Regions from separate parts of the Homo sapiens genome. Here region 2 is linked to region 1. Evidence: fine-mapped expression QTL. A gene starts in region 1. The other region holds a variant in brackets. All regions are shown on one strand. Distances are from middle to middle.

Region 1 (4,401 bases):
ATAATACTCCAATACAGCTGTTTGTTTTTAGTTTTGTGTTTAAACTGAATATTCCACAAGTCTTAAGAAATTGATTCTCAGGAGATTGCAAAAGTGAACTGACTCCCTTCTGTTGATGGAATTCCTCCTGGGATTATTTTTTTCCAAGAAGTAGTGAACTCTGAAATTCTTTTCTTTTTTCTTTTTTCTTTTTCTTTTTCTTTTCTTTTCTTTCTTTTTTTTTTTTGAGACAGTCTTGCTCTGTCCCCCAGGCTGGAGTACAGTGGCGAGATCTTGGCTCACTGCAAGCTCCACCTCCTGGGTTCAGGCCATTCTCCCGCCTCAGCCTCCCAAGTAGCTGGGACTACAGGCGCCCACCACCACGCCTGGCTAATTTTGTTTTTGTATTTTTAGTAGAAACAGGGTTTCACCGTGTTAGCCAGGATGGTCTCGATCTCCTGACCTCGTGATCCGCCGGCCTCGGCCTCCAAAAGTGCTAGGATTACAGGCGTGAGCCACCGCGCCCGACCGTGAACTCTGAACAGGAGCAAACGTTATCCCCTTCAGTGTGCATTGGCAAAGCAAGGCCACTGCTTCTACTTACAACTTTGTACTTCTTCATGATAGGAAGGATTGTACAGCCCCAGGCTATTTTTTATCATAAATGCAACCTCCCAAAAGTCCATTATTACTAGAGAATAAGGAGTAAATTGAAAGGGAAAAAATTAAAGGAATTACCACAATTGAAAACAGAATAGCATCTGCAGGAGCTGCTTTCATTCAGCGGTTTTCCTACAGAACCTGTATCAACCGCCCAGAGGAAGGTCCATGAGAGTAACAGCTAAAGCTACTCAGCTGAAAATCTCACCCAGTTAAGTTTTCCTTCCAACACAACACTACATACTTAGTATGTTTTTCTCAACATACTAAGCCAAGCAATTCTTACTAAGAAGGAGATACTCTGAAAATCTCGAAGGAGGGGGGAAAAAAAACCTTCCAGGCTGAATTAAGTGTGCTTTTCTGGGCTGTATTAACACCTTTATCTCAGTTATTTAGACTTTGTAACAATCTGACTCAGCTTTGTACCCCCAGGACCAAGCAAAGTGCCACGTATATATTAGATGCATAGTACAGATTCTGAAAAAAGATAAGAGCAGTCCAACAGTTCAGTGGCAGAAGAAAAGGCCCCAACGCAGCATGCTATTTAACTTTCTAATAACAACAATTATTACGACTCCCATTTAAGCTCTTGCGAGGCGCCAGCCACCGCAGGCAGCGCTTCTGATCTACTGTCAATTACTCCTCCACCGACCCTATGGCAGTACCATTAATTCCATTTTTCAGGAATCTGAGGTTCACCCAGCTGAAGTACTGGAAGCAAAGTGTCAGCTGTTTAAAAAGCAGTATCGCTGGGACTTTAACCAGGATTGATGCCCAAGTCTGCTTTCGACCACGCCGTTGGCTAACAAGAGAGGTAGGATGGGATGCCTGGAGGAGCTAAGGGGAGAGCACGAGGATGCAGAGAGAGGAATCAGACATCCCTGCTGTCCTCGCGGTCCAGGAGCACTGGGCAGCTTCACTGACCGGAGACCGCGCCTGTCCAGGAAAGTGGACAGCGCCCAGGGAAGAGAGTGGGCTTCTCTCTGAAGTTGCTCTCTGAAGTTGCCCTGGTTGATTGGCAGATGCCTTGAGCCAACGCCCGCAGAAAAAGCACCCGCAGGCACCCCAGGCAAGACTCGCTGGGTCCAAACGCAGAGGGTCTTGCCGGCCGGCAGAGCCTCGGGGCGCGACCCTCCCCTTGCTGAAGGCACCAGCTTCCACGCCGCACCCGCACCTGGCAGCGCCGCGGCGCCGGCACTCTCACCTGGAGCTGTCCTGCCGGGCCGCTGTCTCGAGTCGCAGTGCCAGCTCTCAGGGGCCGGGGTGCGGATAGGGGACCTGCAGGGGGCCTGGTCTGCCTTGTCGGGAGGGCGGATGCCCACCACCCTCGGACTATTTGTTCAGCCAATCAGAGCAGCCAGCCACCGGGAAGTGCCTCGGAGACTCCGCCCCAGACCAGCGCTGCCGCTTGCCAGCCCCCCAGTTGACCCCATAGAGCATGCGCCGTAGGCGTTTCTAAGAGATGGAGCCCGTCCTCCGCCTCGCAGGCTGGCAGGTCCACAGCTCTACCAGCGCGTCGCCTACGCATGCTCTCTTAGCAAAGGCTGTTTTAGGCGGCCTTCTGCTCCGCCCCCGAAGCTCCTGCAGGGCTGGCACCTTCTGCGCCTGACAGAGAGCATGTGGGCTCTATAAATGAAAGTGAATCATGGGCTCCATTTAAAGCGCTTATCATTGTGCCTGATGCAAAGCAATCTTGCTGCTTTAAATTTTTTATTATTATTAAAGATTTGTTAAAAGAGGAAACAATATTCAATATGTACATATTATTTATTAATCATTTTCTAAAACAAAGATTTTATTGAGCACCTACTAAATGCCAGGCATTAGTAAGACAGTGGAGGTATAGAAACCAACCAAACAAGGTTCCTGTTCTCTTGTATATATTCTGATGGGAAGAGACACATCATGAATAACTATATAATACATGAGGTGGTGATAAGTGCTATAAATAACAACAAAAACAAACAAACAACAACAACAACAAACAACAAGGGGCTGGGCACAGTGGCTCACGCCTGTAATCCCAGCAGTTTGGGAAGCTGAGGAGGGCGGATCACCTGAGGACAGGAGTTCAGGACCAGCCTGGCCAACTTGGTGAAACCCCATCTCTACTAAAAATACAAAATTAGCGGGTGTGGTGGTGTGTGCCTCTAATCCCAGCTCCTTGGGAGGCTGAGGCAGGAAAATGGCTTGAACCAGGTAGGTGGAGGTTGCAGTGAGCGGAGATCATGCCACTGCACTCCAGCATGGACAACAGAGTGAGACTCCATCCCCCAAAAAAAAAAAAAAACAGGGATAAGGAGGATGATATGTATATGGTAATCAGGAAAGGACTCTTATGAAGTGACACCTGAGCACAGGCAAGGAGGTAGTTAACAGCCTTAGATACTGGAGAAAGCACATTCTGGGTGAAAATAGCAGGTACAAAGGCCCTGTGGTAGGAATATTCCTGGTGGGTCCTAGCCAGAGTGGTGAGGTCTTTGAGGCTAAAACAGAATGTACATAGTAGAAAGTAATAGAACATGAAGTCCTAGAAGTCTGGTGCCTTGGGAGCCACTTGTCAAGATCTTACCGTGTCTTCTGAGTAAGATGAGAAGCCAGTGTAATATTTTCAATAGAAGGGCAGCATAATCTAGTTTAGAAAGATCATTCTGAACTACAGAAGCAGGGAGACTAATTAGAAGGTGTATTAGTCTGTTCTCATGCTGCTAATAAAGACATACCCAAGACTGGGTAATTTATGAAGGAAAAAGGTTTAACTGACTCACAGTTTCACAGGACTGGGGAGGCCTCACAATCATGGCAGAAGGCAAAAGGCTTGTCTTACATGGCGGCACATGTGAGAGAAAGAACCAAGTAAAAGGATTTTCCTCTTATAAAACCATCAGACCTTGTGAGACTTATTTACCACCACAAGAACAGTATGGGCTAGACTGCCCCCATGATTCAGTTATCTCCCACCGGGTCCCTCCCACAACATGTGGGAATTACAGGAGCTATAATTCAAGATGAGATTTGGGTGGGGACACAGCCAAACCATATCATTCTGCCCTTGGCCACTCCCAAATCTCATGTCCTCACATTTCAAAACCAATCATGCCTTCCCAGTAGTCCCCCAAAGTCTTAACTCATTTCAGCATTAACTCAAAAGTCCATAGTCCAAAGTCTCACCTGAGACAAGGCAAGTCCCTTCCACCTATTAGCTGGTAAAATCAAAAGCAAGTTAGTTGCTTCTTAGATACAATGGGGGTACAGGCATTGGATAAATACACCTGTTTCAAATGGGAGAAACTGGCCAAAATGAAGGAGCTAAAAGCCGCATGCAAGTCCAGATCCATCAAGGCAGTCATTTCTTAAAGCTCCAAAATGATCTCCTTTGACTCCATGTCTCACATCCAGGTCACACTGATGCAGGAGGTGGGTTCCCATGGTCTTGGGCAGCTCTGCCCCTGTGGCTTTGCAGGGGGACCCTTCCTCCTGGCTCCTTTCACAGGCTGGTGTTGAGTGTCTGTAGCTTTCCCAGGTGCACAGTGCAAGCTATCGGTGGATCTACCATTCTGGGGTCTGGAGGACAGTGGCTCTCTTCTCACAGCTGCACTAGGCAGTGCCCCATTGGGGACTCTGTGTGAGGCCTCCAATCCCACATTTCCCTTCTGCACTGACCTAGCCCAGGCTCTCCTTGAGGGCCCCACCCCTGCAGCAAACTTCTGCCTGGACATTCAGGCTTTTCCACACATCCTCTGAAATACAGGTGGAGGTTCC
Region 2 (4,401 bases), 24 kb before region 1:
AATGTAAATAACAGACTATTTCCAAGAGCCTCACCCCATCACCTTTATCTCCCCCATGCCCCTCCCCCAAAGAACAATTTACAGACACCACGTTGAAATAAACCACCAATGATTTCAAAGGAACTCACACATTTAGAATCCCCTAGCTTTAAAATATATTTTAACCCTTGATATGGTTTGGGTGTGTTCCCACCCAAATCTCATCTTTAATTGTAGTTCCCATAATTCCCATGTGTTGTGGGAGGGACCTGGTGGGAGATAATTGAATCACGGAGGCGGTTCCCCCCATACTGTTCTTGTGGTAGTGAGTAAGTCTCTTGAGATTTGATGGTTTTATAAGGGGAAACTCCCTCACTTGGCTCTCACTCTCTCTTGTCTGCCACCATGTAAGATGTTCCTTGCTCTTCCGTCATTATTGTAAGGCCTCCCTAGCTCACAATCCATTAAACTGTGAGTCCATTAAACCTCTTTTTCTTTATAAATTGCCCAGTCTCGGGTATGTCTTTAGTAGTGGCATGAAAACGAATTAATACAACCCTCTCTGACGTCTTGCCACCTGGCCCCAGAATGTCACTTTAGGAAGCAGTGGGGCAAAGGTCCCAAGCAGGCAAGTCATGAAAGAAGAAATATAAATAAAGAAAAATGCCTAACTCCATTTTTTTCCTGGCAATATAACCACATGTTTTGAGACCCTTCAAAACATTCATACCTTTCATATAGTAAGGCTCCTTCTAGGAATATATTGTAAGGAAAGCATGTGATGGGAACACTAAGGTGTTAGTCATAGTAAACATTAAAAGGGAGAATTAAATAAATTATAGGACAGGTTCCTAGTCCCTAATTACAAAAACTCTTGCTGACTAGAATTATGGGCAATTTTTATTTTCTTTAATTTTGCTAAATCTTCTGTTCTTCTGTTTTTCTACAGTGAACATGCATTACTTATATAATCAGCATAAATTAAAATGCATATAACTTTTCAAAATTTTTTGTAAACCAAATGTACCTGTAGTTAGTTATATTCCACTTAACTTCAGAAGGCAGTATATTTTCTTGTTTTCTTTATGTAAGTCTCTGAACTTAGAAACTACTTGTTTTCTACTCTCTCACATCCCTATCTTGCTTCATCTAGGAAAACATGTAATATATTGTGGCTTACATTAATTTCTTCAATTTCAACCATATACATGAATTTTCATAGAAGACTAAATGTTACCAACATTCCTTATCTTATTCATTATTTCTGTTTGGCATTTAAAAATAAATGGAATTTGAACTAACATCTTTTTATATTTCACTTTTAAGAAAAGTACAAACTCTGTAATGAAGAATTTATATCAACTTCTGATCTTATTTACATACATACCTATAGTGGTGCCTTGAGAATGACCCACATAATACACTTGTTCTTGGCCAGTTTTATTCAGAATGAAGTTAATGGAAGCTGGTAGGTCATATTTTGCCATCTCATCATAACTGTAATCCAAGAAAGGAACTCTTTCATTGAAATAGTACATAAAATAGAGCACACACATACTGAGTATGCAGTTTGATGAGTTATCACAAACTA[AAC/A]ACAGCTGGGAAAACCAGCAGTGAGTCCAGGAAACAACACCAGCAGGACTGCAGAAGCCCCCTTGGGCTCTCTTCCAGTTGTGTCTCCCAAAAGTAACTATTGTCCTCATTTTTCACACCAGAAATTAGTTTCGCCTGTTTTTAAATATTTCTGTAAGTAGAATTATACAATGTGTATTCTCCTGTATCTGGCTTAATCCATTTTTTGCTGCATATAATTGTAAGTTGTTCATTCTTATTCTACTATATAAATATACAACACTTTATCCATTCACTGCTGACATGCATTTGGGTAGTTTCCTGTTTTCCGTTGTTACAAATAGCGTGACAATAAACCAATTCTTGTATATGCCTTTTGTTAAAAGCTCTCATTCTTGTGTTTCATGTCCTTAGAGGTGCCTCTGGTTTTAAAAATGGGAAGCAAGCCCGGAGGCTGCTATAGTGCTGCTGACTTTCTCTAATACCTGGTACCAAAACATAGACCAAAACCCAAGTGTGCGTATGGGTATATGCATGCGCATGTTGCCACTGGCAGGAGAAGAGCCAACCCCTAGCCAGTTCATACAAGGTGCCAGGTTCTGTGGAGGTTCCTTCTCTGCACCCTCTCCTTTAAGCCCCCAGTGACCTTATGAGGTAGGTGTTTATTACGCTCCATTTTACAAATAAGGAAACCGAGACACAGGAGGCTTATGTAAGATGTCCAATGTCATACAGCAATTAACTGGTGGAGCCAGAAGGAAGAGGGAGGAAAGGATAATTTCTGGAAAGAAGAAAAGTGAACATCTGGATTACATATTTATGGAGAAAGGAGGAAAGTTATGGAATAACGTTTACCCAGCAGCACCCACACCACCAGAAATGCCGAAGTAACTTAAGAATTCCTAACTAAATGTAAATCTTAATGTAATCATTTACTTATAATTTACCTTACTGCTAGTCATTAAATTCCTAGCAACATTTAAAACCTTTCAAAAGACACTAACTTCCCCTCTCATACAACTTCAGAGTTACCACCTATCTACCTCTTCTGCTGGAAGCCTGTTGTCTGCTTTAAGAGTACTAAGGAAATACATCCATGCCATTATCAATTCATATATACCTGAAAGCCCAGAATTCATCCTGAGAAACTGAGAGTGTCTTATGTTTCCGAGACCAGGTATTTCCTCTGCTGTTGCCCATCCACACGTCAAAACCAGCATCAGCAAGAATGAAGCCCAGGCTGCTGTTGGCAAGGTTTGTGACCCAGTTACTAGAATCTGCCAGCAAGCCATGTTGCAGGAAGACAACTGGTTTGGGACCTGAAAAACATTCATTGTTTAGGAGGCAGTAGCACCAAGCTTCAAAACAAATATGATATCTTGCTAAATAGAACATTCGTAAAAGATCCATAAGCAAATAATGAACTAGAAATAAATTGAAAGATTGACATAGTGATGTACTCACATATAATGTTAGTAAAGAATTTTTTTAAAACAGCACTGGCAAGGTAGCAGTGAAACTGGACCATTTTTTGCATGTCCACTAACAAGACACACTTATGTAAGCAGCAAAAACAAAAATCAATATATTTTTAAGAAATTATAAAATGTTTTTACAATTTTTTTCTTATAAAATGTTTTTACAATTTGCTTTCGTAATTGCATTTCTCACAATAATTCCTAACAAAATAAACAAAAGGAAAGAAAAAGATCACACATAATGAGACATCACTATACACGTATCAGAATGAGCAACATCCAAAAACGCTGAAAACACCAACTGCTGAAGAGGATGTGGAGGAACAGGAACTCTCATTCATTGCTGGTGGAAATGCAAACTGGTAGCACCACACTGGAAAAGTTTGGCAGTTTCTTACAAAACTAAACATACTCTTACCATATAATCCAGCAATCACATTCCTTGGTATTTTACCCAAAGGAGTTGAAAACTTACATCTACACAAAAACCTGCATACAGATGTCTATAGTAGTTTTACTCATAATTGCCAAAATTTAGAAGCAACCAAGATGTGCTCCAGTAAATGAATGCATAACTAAACTGTGCTACATCCAGACAATGGAGTATTACTCAGCCCTAAAAGGAAATGAGCTATCAAGCCACAAAAAGATGTAGAGGAACCTTAAATACATATTACCAAGATCTGTAAAGGCTGCATTCTATATGACATGCTGGAAAAGACAAAACTATAGAGAGAGTAAAAAAGATCCTGGTTGCCAGGGGTTAGGAGGGAGGAAGGAATTCATAGACAGAGTAAAGAGGATTTTTCAGGGCAGTAAGACTACTCTGCATGATACTATAGAGGTAGACACATGCCATCATACATTTGTCCAAAACTATAGAATATACAACATCAAGAGTGAACTGTAGTGGCCGGGTGTGGTGGTTCATGCCTGCAATCCCAGCACTTTGGGAGGCTGAGGCGAGTGGATCACTTGAGGTCAGTAGTTCGAGACTAGCCTGGCCAACATGGCGAAACCCTGTCTCTACTAAAAATACAAAAAAGGTAGCTGGGTGTGGTGCCCCACACCTGTAATCCCAGCTATTCAGGAAGCTGAGGCAGGAGAATTGCTTGAACCCGGGAGGCAGAGGTTGCAGTGAGCCAAGATTGCACTGCTGCACTCCAGCCTAGGGGACAGAGGGAGACTCAGTCTCAAAAAAAAAAAAAAAAGGGAACCCTAATGTAAACTACGGACTTTGTGTGAATGTAGGTTCATCAGCTGTAACAATTACAATTCCACTCTGTGAGGGATGTTCATAACAGGGGAGTGTGGGGGCAGAGGGTGTATGGGAAATCTCTGTACCTTCCACTCAATTTTGCTATGAACTTAA

Evidence for each region. PIP is the estimated chance that this variant, and not a neighbour inherited with it, causes the effect.
Region 2: its variant is fine-mapped to the expression of LIPA in whole blood (TOPMed, PIP above 0.99). The same link has a PIP of 0.9 or more in platelets.

The regions. Positions count from the first base shown.
Region 1 is chr10:89,249,894-89,254,294 of GRCh38, forward strand. LIPA (lipase A, lysosomal acid type) reads right to left here and starts at 1,882. Exons shown (of 10, transcript NM_000235.4): 1 at 1,844-1,882. RefSeq lists an enhancer at 1,909-1,968.
Region 2 is chr10:89,225,529-89,229,929 of GRCh38, forward strand. It overlaps LIPA (lipase A, lysosomal acid type), which reads right to left. Exons shown (of 10, transcript NM_000235.4): 4 at 2,672-2,870; 5 at 1,367-1,476. Among named protein-coding and RNA genes, the nearest start is that of CH25H, 20 kb to the left of the region's middle. The variant AAC/A (reference allele first, on the strand shown) is at 1,571.